Regions from separate parts of the Homo sapiens genome. Here all the other regions are reported to be linked to region 4. Evidence: microRNA targets listed by miRTarBase, many of them from high-throughput screens and not tested one by one. Region 4 holds a microRNA gene; each other region holds the end of a gene's coding sequence.

Region 1 (3,185 bases), not on the chromosome of region 4:
CTAGTATGGTAGACTGCTAGGTGTCACCCCAAGTCGTCTTTCCTGTTTCTACTCTTAAGTTTTTTCTTGAGCATGTGATCACACAGTTATGGATGACAAACTGGCTTTCCCTGCAGCTAAACATAGCCTGAACACACAAACTGACCAATGGGATATTAGAAGTAATAAAATGTTAACATCATATATTATCTTCAGTATCTCAGCGTGTTTCCCAGAGCCCCCTTCTCCTATTTCCTCAATTGGAGAATGAGCACCAGAGCAAGCAACTTTGGACTAGAAATGGAAGCTACCTTCTAAGTATGGCAGAATGCCTGCCTCTGAACAGCTACCCAAAATAAAGTACATGTTTTTTAGGGGTTCTTGTTTGCAGCACTTAATAGTCTGCAGCCTAATATACCTAGTAAATAACCTGAGTACCAGAGACATAAAATAGAACATATGCTACAAAAAGTCGGGGGTGGGGGGGGAAATTAAAAACTAGTTTTTGTTTTTTGAGACTGTGTTTCGTGATCTCAGCTCACTGCAACCTCTGCCTCCCAGGTTCAAGTGATTCTCCTGACTCAGCCTCCCGAGTAGCTGGAATTACAGGTGCCCAACACCATGCCTGGCTAGTTTTTGTATTTTTAGTAGAGACGGGATTTCGCCATGTTGGCCAGGCTGGTCTTGAACTCCTCACCTCAGACGATCTGCCCGCCTCGGCCTCCCAAAAGTGTTGGTATTACAGGCGTGAGCCACCGCACCTGCCCAATATCTAGTTTGAAACCGTATTTTAAAGACAGCTAGAAATATAACTATATTTTTAAGCAGAAAAAACTTCCTTCTGATAGCATCAGTACAAGAAAACATTTCTGGTTTAGAATATTGAGTTGAAAATTAAGAATGTATATTATGGAATTTAAAAATCTAAAAGCACAGGACACATTTTCAGAAGAGGAATTTTACTTTTACCCACTTATGGTAATATTTGCAATATTAGAATATAATTAGGTTAAATAAATCAAATAAGGAATCCAGAAGAAACTGTTCTTGAGTTAAGCCAAGTACACACTGGCAATTTCGAGAAAGGAGAACTCTACACATTAACAAAAGAACACACAAGCTCAAATGCAAGTTTATATGGTGAGTGTTTTTAAAGGATTTAAAAAGCATGCTCCATCAGCATAATAGCTTTTTCTCATTTATGTAACAGATGCATTTCTGTCTGCTTGTGTACAGCAAAGGGTTAGAACCTGAATAAACTTATTTATGATTTCAGAAATGTGGTATTTTAGAAATGTACTCCATAGAATTTACTTCACTGCTCCTACCACTGATTCTTCAAATAAGCAAAGTACAGAAGGCCTTATCCCTTGAAAATGTTTTTAAACACTAGCACTTTAAATTGAAACACTGGTAGAAACGTAGCAATGTCAGGTACAATGCCTATACTTAGTCTTATTTAAAATAAGAATTGAATGCACAACAGAAAATTTATCATTTTCTTTATCATTGGAGGGGAGGGAAAGAAAGCAAGCAGAGGTGGGGATATAGTTACACTATTTAAGAGCTGAATACAAAGACAATGAGTCTTTCATAGTCTCAACAACTCCACAATGAATAACTGTGGATTATCTCATTTATAATTCACATTGGATAAAAAAAATCGGTTCCCCTCTGTGTGTATCAATTTAATTCAAACCTTATCTTCAGAATACAAAGATGAATACTACAAGATAAACTAACTGCAATAGGTTTTTCTAAGTAGAAGACCAAACACCAAAGGGAATCCCTCTTTCCAATGTCTTCTGATAAGGCAAGATTTTGCCAGAATGGAAGTCTAACACTTAAATAAGCATTCTCTTGGCCAAGTAAGAAACTACAGTTGTTGTGGGTATTACCCTACAATTACCATATGTATTACATATTAAATTAAACTCAGCATTAAATATGCTTGTATAATTACGCTGTTAATGATGATAGCAGTGATGATGCCGGTGGAAAAAGCCTGTCTTTAGCTCAAGAAAAGTAAGGGAGACAAATGTAGCAAGCAGAAAGCAAACACAGATTTGGGCAATTTTTGACTAGGAAAGAGAATTTTAAGCATAGAAATATAAAAAGAAAAGTACTACCTTATTTCCCTTACGTGGAAATAATATGAAAAACACTTATTAGATATACTGGACAACAAGAGAACTAAGTACTCCAACTCTACTGCAGCATTACAAAAAAAACATCCCTTCACCACAGTGTAAGATTTAAGGGCAACCTGCCCAAGGATGCATGTTATATCAAACACAGCAAGATTGCTGCTGCCCTGCCAAGTACTTCCAATCCCTACCCAGGTCCTACTGAAATACGGGTGGTCCCAATTAGTTTTATTGAAATAAATCTTTAAAGAAAAAGATAAAGCATTTAAAAAGACAAGTCAAAATGCATCAGGAACCACATATCCAACACAAACTTTATCCTCAAATGAGTTATGTTTGCCTCGCACTAATAACTTTTATTTCACTCAGAGCAGTAATCTTCCATACATAAGTATATTCCCTGCCAATAATTCAAAGAAAAAAATCCAAAATGATTAGTAAAGAAAAATATAAGAATTAACAGGCCCTTTAAATTTGTTTTAAATATTTTGAAGATTTAAAAAGTGTTTAAAGTTTGTAATTCCTAGTAGGAAAACATTATCTGAATGAATACCCTAATGGCAAACCACTGTAAAATGCTTCAGCTGCATTTGGGGGAGAGGGGTAGGGATTATCTTCAAAGCACCCCAGCTCTCTTGATGAGAAGGTCAGAGGTACACTGGTTTGTATTATTGCGACATCCATAAGGTGATCTAGGTTGCTTTTCCTTCAGCAAGGGCTTTATTTATCAGAAGGACATTACGCTTGACCTCCAAATTTGGCTGACAATTTACTGATGAGATTCATAACCTTTGGGTTGCTCTGGTATTTTGACATATTTGCTGGGTTCTGAGCCACATCCTGGAAAGCCACCATAACTTCTGGATCCTGAAAAGAAAGGGTTCATTAGTATTTAAAAAGTGTCCTACTGGGTCAGTAAGTTTATTATCCTAAATTCCATCTCTTATTTAGACCTGTAATTTGGTGATAGTTAAGTTAAATGGGGTTTAGATGAGTGCTTGAAGTATCAAAATCAAGCTGAATTAAGTCATTTGAACTGTATGATGAAAAAAGCACAAT
Region 2 (3,185 bases), not on the chromosome of region 4:
AAAATAGTAAGGCAATAGAAAAAGAAGGCATAATTTATTGTGTCTATTATGACTAGTGTTTAATAAGACTTATAAGAAAATAATCAAATTATTAGATCATTTAACATATATTCTGGAATTAGAAGCAAAAAAAGTGAGAACATAGCTGAGCTCCATAAACATGCAAATTATATTTTTATTCAACAAATATCTGTTGTCCCAACTTATGCCAGGCACCCTGTTAGGCAGTGAGGAATGTGAGAGTGACTATGACAAATGTGGTTCCTGTTCCTAGTGGGGAAGGAATATAAATAATAGTATCAGAGGTATGATGACAGAAGTGCAGGAGCTGAGAGTCAGAAAGGCATCTAAACCCAGGCTTCCCTGAAATGACCTGAAGCATGAAATGCGGAGGATTAAGGATTTCAGGAAGAAGGAGCAACCTGTGAAGAGGTTTTGTCAACTCTGACCTCTCCAGAAACATTTAGCCACAAGAAAATCCATAATTTAGTGGAGAATGTCTAAAACATTTAGTGTTACCCAAATTCAGCTCAAGATGAATCAAATGCAGGATGACAATGTACCCCATTTCACAGTTTTCCAAAGAAAATACTGATAATGATGAAAAGAATGACAGCAGTTCAGGCTTGTTGATGCATTTTATTGTGAGATGGGAGTCTGGTAAAAAACTAGAAAATGACCATGATGTAACAAGGAACTTAAAAATGAAGAGTCAGATCTGTAACTTACATACATGAATACAGGAACAAATTGGCACAAAATGTTAAACATTGTTCCCAACACTGTTTATAGAAGTTAATCCTAATTTGGCTTACTAAGGAAATGAGAGTTGTATGGTTAGGCTGATTTCTTAATAAAACTGCAGAGCATCATGCTATTAGTCACACAGTGAATTTCAAAATTTAAGTTTTATATTAAAAACTGGGTAAAGGTAAAATGACTTGATTGTAGTTGTAAAACTAATACATTCCCATTTAAGTTCTGTTCTACAGTCCAAGGCAAGTATAAATGTTAACATAACACTGTTAAATCAAATCTCAATGCAGGAGAACCAATTGCATCTCTACTTTAAATCTTATCAACTTTCCAAATTTTCATACTAAAATATATTATTGTATTAATACAAACTACAGTATTATACACTACACTGTGTAATAAATAAAGAAATATAAAAATAAGACACATAAATATAAAAGTTTTCTAAAACTAAAAGTACATATGTCAGTAAGAAGGGTATTAATACTGCCAGGTTTGAAGACATACAGTACAAAAATGTTGCACAGATCTATAAACTAAAAGAAATAAAATAATACTGATAGGTAAAAATCAGCTAATGTTGTTAATAAATTGGGTCCATAATAACTAACATTTGGAAACAGTTATGAGCCAAATAACAATAGCATGTCCATGTCTGAAATGCAAGTACATGGATAAAGCAGATTAGAAAATTTCCCTTTCGTTTCTGTAGAGAAATTCTGAAAATCAATCAACATAAAATCAATACCGAGGAATTGAAGGATGAAATGTCCCAGTGTTTCAGTTTCTCTGACAGAGTCAGTGGTTTTAAGTTTTATTTGGGAATTTTGATACAAGAGACAAATCAACAAATGCTAGTTATTGTAGGCCACACATTGGATGAAGGCGGGTTAGAGCCTTGAAAATACTGAGAAATGGCACTTACAGCACACAGGTCTTGCTTAAGGCCAAAGGAGATACAAAGCTTCATGTCATATCCTTCATATGTTACCACATATTCAAACACAATCACAAACACTGATTCTGATGATTTTGCTGTCCTTATCAGATTAACATTGTTAGTCCCTGCAATCAGAACTCAATGGCAATCTTTTGAACTCCATTTTAAACCACGTGAGTAAGAAACTTCAGTTCTTCTATCAGCTGCTTTCTTAAGGCTAACAATACACTTTAAATGATAATACGCTCTACTAAGACATCTAAATATTAGAAATTACTACCTTCTAGACTGAATTTATAAAAGGTAGTTAGCACGGGTTGGAACTACATTATACTTCTCTGTGAAGGGAATTTTGTAGTGCAGAAGTTCTCACATTTTAAAAAACATAATAAAATACTGAAGCGGATTTAGCATATGTTTACCAATAAAAAATTATAAAATTTCTCCCAATTGTACAGCTTAAGAATAAACCAACATAAGAGTGATAATACTGATAAGATAAAACAATGCCAGATGCATATCTAATTAATCAGCTTCCTTTAACCTCTTGTATTGTTGCTCTCTGAGTCATTAAGGTTTTCTAATCTGCTGCATGTTACAAACTTGTTCCTAACTTTGAAAACTGCATGAAAAATTACTAGGTCTGAGGTTCAGGCACACCCGGATTTATTTTGTGTGTGTGTGTGTGTGTGTGTGTGTGTGTGTGTGTGTGTTTTGTATTTTGTATTTTTTTAGTTTTTACTTTACACAGTAGTGAACAGGAATCACAGCATACAGGTTACTGTGTTTCCATGAAAAGCAAGGATAATATTGAACGAAATTCATTATCAATTAGAATTTATTTTCCTTCTAGAAAAACGATTAGGCTTCATTTGTCTTTTCTTCAGACACTTGCTCACTACTCTCGCCTACTTTTTGTCCTAAGCTGCTTGCTTGACTTTCAGCCCTGTCATCCTTCATCAGACCTTCAGTTTTTGCTTCTTCTCCCTCATTCTCTGCCTCTTCTACCTCTTCTTCTTCCACTTCTTCCTCCTCCTCCTCCTCTTCCTCATCCCCTTGTGGTTTTTCACATTCTTTTTCTTCCTGCAATTCTTCCATCTCTTTATCCTCCTCCTCTTCCTCTTTTTCACTGTCTTCATCCTCTTCCCTTGTCAAACTCTCTCTCTCGTCCGAGTCGCCCTGTGAGGGAGACGCCCTGGCACCCACGTGCTCATTCGAGAGGATTTCAGGCCCTGCCTCTTCCTGCTCTGTGCTGTCACGTTCTTCCGCTTCTCTCTTACAGTAGGAGTAGCGATGATTCATGTGTTGAGAATAAGACCCAGAGTGTGAGAAGCGCTTTCCACATTTGTCACATTGATAGGGCTTTTCTCCAGAATGTAATCGCATGTGTTCAATCAAATGATGTTTGTGTTTAAATGCCTTTTTACAGATTCCACACTCATGAGGTCTTTTACCTGCAAAATAAGAATTCTGTTAAATAAAATGGTGG
Region 3 (3,185 bases), not on the chromosome of region 4:
GGTGGATGGACGTGGGCAGTCCTGGGAACCTTCCTAAAGCCAGTTTGCATTTGATGTTTCGGCTTATTCTTCGTAGGAAGTACAGTGACGTTTGCCATGTTTTTCAGACACACATGCTCGGACATCAAGAGTATTCTTCTTCACCGCTATTTCAGGTGCCAAGGACTTCAGGCAGGGAGCCCTCAGCTCCTTCCGGGAACCTCCCCCACCGGGGACTGCAGGGCCCTGGGCTGGGTTACCCCACCAGCTCCACGGAAGACCTCCAGCCTGGCCACTCCTCGGCCTCTCTCATCAAAGCAATCCGCGAGGAGCTCCTCCGGCTCTCCCAGAAACAGAGCACCGTGCAGAACTTCCACAGCTGATCGGCCTCGCCTCGCAGATTTGCCAAGTATCCGCTTCCTGTGGAAGCAAGACCAAAAGGAAATCAACTGAGTGGGTGTTTGGAAGAGGAAGGAGCAACTCTCGGGCAGCCTGCCCAAGGGAGGGAGCAAGTTGCAATTTAGAAGATGCCATACGTCGTGTGACAGCTCATGAGCCTTTCACTGGGCTGGCAATTGTCTGAACACTTGGGTTCAGTTGAAATATATGTATTTTGGCCAAAAGCCAGCAGCACTTCACAAAAACAAAACACAAACCTAAGCTAACAAAATGACTGCATTCGTCTCTTTTTTAAAGGTAGAGATTAAACTGTATAGACAGCATAGGGATGAAAGGAACCAAGCGTTTCTGTGGGATTGAGACTGGTACGTGTACGATGAACCTGCTGCTTTGTTTTCTGAGAAGAGGTTTGAAGACATTTTATTAACAGCTTAATTTTTCTCTTTTACTCCATAGGAACTTATTTTAATAGTAACATTAACAACAAGAATACTAAGACTGTTTGGGAATTTTAAAAAGCTACTAGTGAGAAACCAAATGATAGGTTGTAGAGCCTGATGACTCCAAACAAAGCCATCACCCGCATTCTTCCTCCTTCTTCTGGTGCTACAGCTCCAAGGGCCCTTCACCTTCATGTCTGAAATGGAACTTTGGCTTTTTCAGTGGAAGAATATGTTGAAGGTTTCATTTTGTTCTAGAAAAAAAAAATCCCTCCCAAAGTGGGGCAAAAAGCTTTATATTTATTTGATTATCCAAAATACAGATCAAAGTTTAGATCTACATTCTTCATTGTATTTGCTGTTTCTTAATTGGGCACACACAACTCCTGGTCATGTCCCAGTTCAGCACCGATCGCTAAGGCCGATCCTGTAGAATGCGGCTTTCAAGAGGTCCTAACTGATCCTTTCTTCCACTTTGCTGTTGATTTGTTCACAAATTATGTCTGAATGAGAAATCTTCTGTAAGCAGAAGTTATTTAATAATTCCCAGCACCACGAAATTGTTATACATACATCCCTACCAGTCACATTCCCTGTGTTCAGAGCCTGGAAATGAAATTGAGTTCAGTTCAGCCTCTCTGTAATGAATCAAGAAATGTAAAAGAGCTTTGAGACCCCAAGGGAAAGGAGAGAGTTGCTTCTCATTTCTGATTTTATTGTGCTGTTACTCTGTCGAGTGGCTATTAAAATTGTCTTATGCTCTTTGGGCTAAGAGGGGATCATCTCGCTTAAGATGTACTCCTGATGTAAACATTTCCCCCACTTTCCAAATAATGGTAAAGAAAACAGTGGCAAGGGCTGTTCTGTTTTCTGGTACCTGAGTGAAACTCAGAAGAAAAGCAGGCTTAGCTAAGAGATTTTCACTATTAACCTGTTTTTATTAGATCAGCGAAGACAGTCATGCATCGCTTAATGATGGGGATGCATTCTGAGAAATGTGTCATTAGGCTGTTTTGTTGCTGTGCCAACATCCTAGATTGTACTTACACAACCTACATGGTATAGCCTACTACACACCTGGGCTGTGTGGCATGGCCTATTCCTCTTAGGCTACAAACCTGTACAGCATGTTACTGTACTGAACACAATGGTAAGTATTTGTGTATCTAAACATAGCTAAACATAGAAAAGGTATGGTAAAAATACAATTTTATAATCTTATGGGACTACCATCAATATGTAGACCGTCATTGACCAAAACATCCTGATGTGTGCATGACTGTACTTTTCATTAAATAACAGATAAGGGGCTATAGAATTTGGGGCTCTGACTGATCAAAACCTGTGTATCTGTGTCAAGTTTTAAGACCCCTGAAACAGCTAAAACAGGTTTCCAAAGTGTAATCACTGGATTTCAAAACCATGTTTTAGCCCTTCATTAATGAAGCCTGTTGTACAGATTTAGAGTCTTACAATATGAGGGAAGTTGGTTCTGGGAAGGTAAGATGTAGCCAGTTTTCATCTGGGCACCTCTGAAAGAGAAGGAGTGCAGGAGAGTAAGTCTCTCAAGGACGTTCAACAAAGGACCAGCAGCATCTTATCAGGCGATCCTCAGAGGCTCCAAGGAGCATTGGAGAGAATGCCCCTTTCTGGGCTTGATGTCTTGGTTTTGGTTTAATACCAAATTTCTCTTGGTCTTGGTTTAATACCCGACTCCTCCCAAATTGAACGATTATCTTTGTATGTCACTCAAAAATACCAGGTTTCCTGAATATGTTATTAAGAATTTCAGATATCCAAGCAGAATTTTATTATGGACACCTTGTAATGAATTCAAATCGTGTGACAGCAAACGGGATAAATGGCCCCTTCTCACCCAGTTCCGCTCAGGGCCATACAGGCTTGCACATAGAGTGTGCTAAAAATGGTAACCTCCTTTGAGCATTGCAGAAAGAGGGTTCTGTTTCAAATTGGGCTGACCGTAAAAGCAATTTTGATGTCTTTCAAACTACCATAAAGGGATTTTAACTGTATTTTTATTCTTAGAAACAATACACCTTTAAACAGATGTCAAGACCAAAGATGATGTATAATAAACAGCCGGTGGTTATGGTGTGGTGTGAGCAGGCCCCCGGATCACCAGCCCTCTGCTGGTGGTCATAAAGCACACACAGTTTGTACTTGCTTCCTCTCGACGCCTGCCACAACAGTTTTGCCAGTCACCAAACTCAGAAAAAACTAGCTGTGTGAGCAGCACCGTACCCTAGCGGTCTTCAGACATTAAGTTCACGTCATCCACTGAAAGGAAGGGTCCTTGCGTTGACAGCGTGTGGCTTTGGAGTCCGTTTATGGAAGCACTCTACAATG
Region 4 (3,185 bases):
TTTTATTTTTTTAAAATTAAGAAGTCAGACTCCTTTTCTTTCCTATATATGTTGATTCCACACATGGGTGGATAACTGGTAGCAAATTCAAAACCAACAGATTTCTTCGTATTTGAAACAATGACATTCATTCTTTTCCCTGGAATCAAAGCAGAAATATTAAGAGAAACAAAAGTTTTCCCAAACCTAAATCCTTTTTCTTCAATCGTGCTTAAATTCACTGTTTTTTTACCCCAGAGTAAGGAAGTCAGGCAGAGGGCTGGGGGAAATTCAGGAAGTGTCCATCTGTCAATTAATGGAGCTCCCGAGAATTTTCCTCAGGTAGATTTCTTCCACTGATAACTTGAGTGTGGTTTTGTCTAATGTTTCAAGGTTGAGAAGTGGAAGATAGGTATTCAGTATAAAATATGGAGATAAGAGTGGGGGAAAGCCTGCAGACTCAGTGATGGTCTAAGGACATATATGATAAATGAAAATTTCTCAGAAGTACAAAAGACTTCTCTCAGAAGATTAAACATCTCCTAGAAGGCTTATGAAATTAAAGTCCAATTTTTTTAAGAACATCGTCCTTGGATTGAAAGGTTGAATCAAAAGCATGATAATTGAATTTACTTACAATACAGAGTTATGAGCTATTGCAAGGGTGAAGTGATAGATTTTCAAGATAACCAGTTTGGTTCTGAAGCTGGTCCTTATTTACTCCTCTGCCTTCCATTGCAGCTCTGGTTACCCACGTATTTCCTTTAATGAGTTAAGTAAGTAATGCCCATGGACTTGGTCTCTGCAGGGCCACTCCTATGCAGAGGTCTCCGCTTGTGTTTTAGAGGTATAAATATCTGCCCTTAGCTCTGCCATGGTTCCTGGCATTTAATCATCAATTGAAAGTAGTATGTCTATAAGGGCAGAGCATTATCTATAACGTAAATTCCATGCAATGTGCTGCCTTCTGTTGTGGATTTCCTGCCAGCACCAGTCAGAGATTAGAGGCAGCTGGAGTGGGAGAAAGGTGGCTCGGACACATACATCCGTAAACTATAGAACCACCAATCAAAATCTATTCTATTTCCTCATCTCCCTAACCACTAATTATTTTTTACACATTACCTCTTTTTACTTACTATCCTCTAAATTCATGTTCATTTTATTTTTATTATTTTTTTTAGAGGCGGGGGTCTTGCCATGTTACAGAGGCTGGTCTTGAACTCCTGGCCTTAAGCAATCCGCCTCGGCCTCCCAAAGTGCTGGGACTATAAGTGTGAGCCACTGCATCTGGCCCTCTAAGTTCATTGTAAACTGGCTTCTCCTTTATACAAGCTAAAACTTAAGACCACATGAATGATTAAGCCTAGCCTCCCTCCTCATTCAGCCAAATGATTAGTGAACACTTTTTTCAATATTTTTTTTTCAGTATGTTGGGCATTAAGAATCCAAAGATTAGAGTCTACCAAAGGAAAAGGCAATGGGAGTAAATAGACAAAGTGCTTGGAGAGCATTGAGAAATGAGTGATTTATTTCATCAGAGACCTGTAGAGGCCTTCCAGGGACAAAGATATTTCGGTTTAGTCTTGAGGTATGTAGGATATCTTCAGGTAAAGAAATTTAAAAAGGACATCAAAATGGGATATACATACATGTACACACACATGTCATCCACACACATACATATATATATGTTTGTATGGATATGTGTGTGTATGTGTGTGTATACACAGAACCGACAGATTTCCTCATGTCTGAAAACAATAACATTTAAGAATATCTTAAGAGTATATAAGTTCTTGAGATTTAACACCTGAGCCCCTAACATCCAAGTTTAGATGAGTAGTCATTCATTCAACAGATAATCATCAAGGACTCACAGTCTGCCAGACACTGCTAGGTAAGCATCAAGGATGCAAAGACAGTAAATACAGGACATGTTTTCTGCCCTTAAGAAACTCACAGTTTCCCTGAAAACTAGTTAATCACTATGGAAAACAGGGTCCCGTGAGAAAAGAATTTTATGCAAGAACAAGGTGAAGATGGAGTCATAACATAAGACATCCTTTAGGAAAGAAAGCCCAGGCTGGTAATCCCAAATTGAGATTTTTCCAGGGCCACTAGGAAAGGCTAAGGATGCCTTGGAAGAAAAAGGGAAACAAAACTAGAGAAAAGGCTGTTGAAAGAGGACAGACCAAGTAGCAAACAAATTTTGGCCGAAATGAACCAAAAATTCATCATTCTACCAGGTGGCTGGTACCCTTTTAGAACTTTTTATTCTGAGATGTGTTATAAGCCACTCTTTACAAAAGAGGCAACTAAGTAATTTTCCCAAGGTTACATACACAGCAAGGGTGAGAACTAAGGTCTTTCTGATGCAAAATCTACCCTCTTTCTACAACACCCAATCGCCCTTCAATTTTATCTCACAATTGCTACCAGAGGCTCATTGTTTAACTGGCTTGTCCATACCCTCTGCAATACACTGCTTTCAACAAAAATCAGAATTGTGTCAAAAAAATTTCAAAAAAAGGTCATGCATATGGAACTACCACTTAAAGTAGGGGCGATATGAGAATAGAAACCAACTAGAATGTCCTGAGTAGATATAATTGAGAAATAGGAGAGATATAGTATATTCTTGAGATACTTGGATACTTGAGAGGAAAAGCCCTTGTCCAGACTTTCTTTGACTCAAGAAAGGGAGAATAGTGATTCAGAAAGGGAAGAGTTATTATTGTTTTCTCAGGACTCAACATTGTGCCTCATCCATGGTCATACTCAATAATTACTTGTTGAATGACTAGAAGAATGAATATCAAGGGAAAGGGAAAACACTGGAGATGCTAATTTTAACTTACATATTGGCAAAGCTACTTTCTGGTGGTGATTTTTTAATAAAAATACCAAGTATTGTTGAGAGTATAGAGAAGCTAGCATCTTCTTAAACTACTGTATCAGTGTAAATTTTTTTGGAGAGCAGATTGGTTATATGCATCAGCAGCTTTAGAAAATGCCTCCTTTTTCACAAGAAATTATAGTTCTATAATTTAATACTACTAATAGAGGGATTTATTTACCAGGATGTGCATCTCTATTTACTATGGTGAAAATTGCCAACAACCAAAAATCTCTCAAAGGAGATACACTAAATAAACCATGCTGTAAAAACATGTAGTTTTTCTTATCTATTATTTAGTAAAAAG

What was found. The annotated mature microRNA hsa-miR-3149 reads UUUGUAUGGAUAUGUGUGUGUAU and lies in region 4 at 1,674-1,696, shown strand. An mRNA with a match to its seed (bases 2 to 7 or 8) in the 3' UTR can be bound and repressed. Matches are read on the target gene's strand: a 7mer-m8 pairs with bases 2 to 8, a 7mer-A1 pairs with bases 2 to 7 and ends in A, and an 8mer does both.
Region 1: the mRNA of ST13 is a reported target of hsa-miR-3149. Seed matches in the 3' UTR shown: 7mer-A1 at 2,789-2,795.
Region 2: the mRNA of ZEB1 is a reported target of hsa-miR-3149. Seed matches in the 3' UTR shown: 7mer-A1 at 2,417-2,423, 7mer-A1 at 2,410-2,416 and 7mer-m8 at 830-836.
Region 3: miRTarBase lists KIAA1549 as a target of hsa-miR-3149. The part of its 3' UTR that is shown has no 7-base or 8-base seed match.

What each region holds. Positions count from the first base shown.
Region 1 is chr22:40,823,674-40,826,858 of GRCh38, forward strand. It overlaps ST13 (ST13 Hsp70 interacting protein), which reads right to left. Exons shown (of 12, transcript NM_003932.5): 12 at 862-2,993. The coding sequence ends at 2,865. Among named protein-coding and RNA genes, the nearest start is that of SLC25A17, 5.9 kb to the left of the region's middle.
Region 2 is chr10:31,526,637-31,529,821 of GRCh38, reverse strand. It overlaps ZEB1 (zinc finger E-box binding homeobox 1), which reads right to left. Exons shown (of 9, transcript NM_001174096.2): 9 at 18-3,150. The coding sequence ends at 2,558. Among named protein-coding and RNA genes, the nearest start is that of MACORIS, 180 kb to the left of the region's middle.
Region 3 is chr7:138,835,083-138,838,267 of GRCh38, reverse strand. It overlaps KIAA1549, which reads left to right. Exons shown (of 20, transcript NM_001164665.2): 20 at 108-3,185. The coding sequence ends at 362. Among named protein-coding and RNA genes, the nearest start is that of ATP6V0A4, 38 kb to the right of the region's middle.
Region 4 is chr8:76,965,289-76,968,473 of GRCh38, reverse strand. It overlaps MIR3149 (microRNA 3149), which reads left to right and starts at 1,624; the gene lies at 1,624-1,706.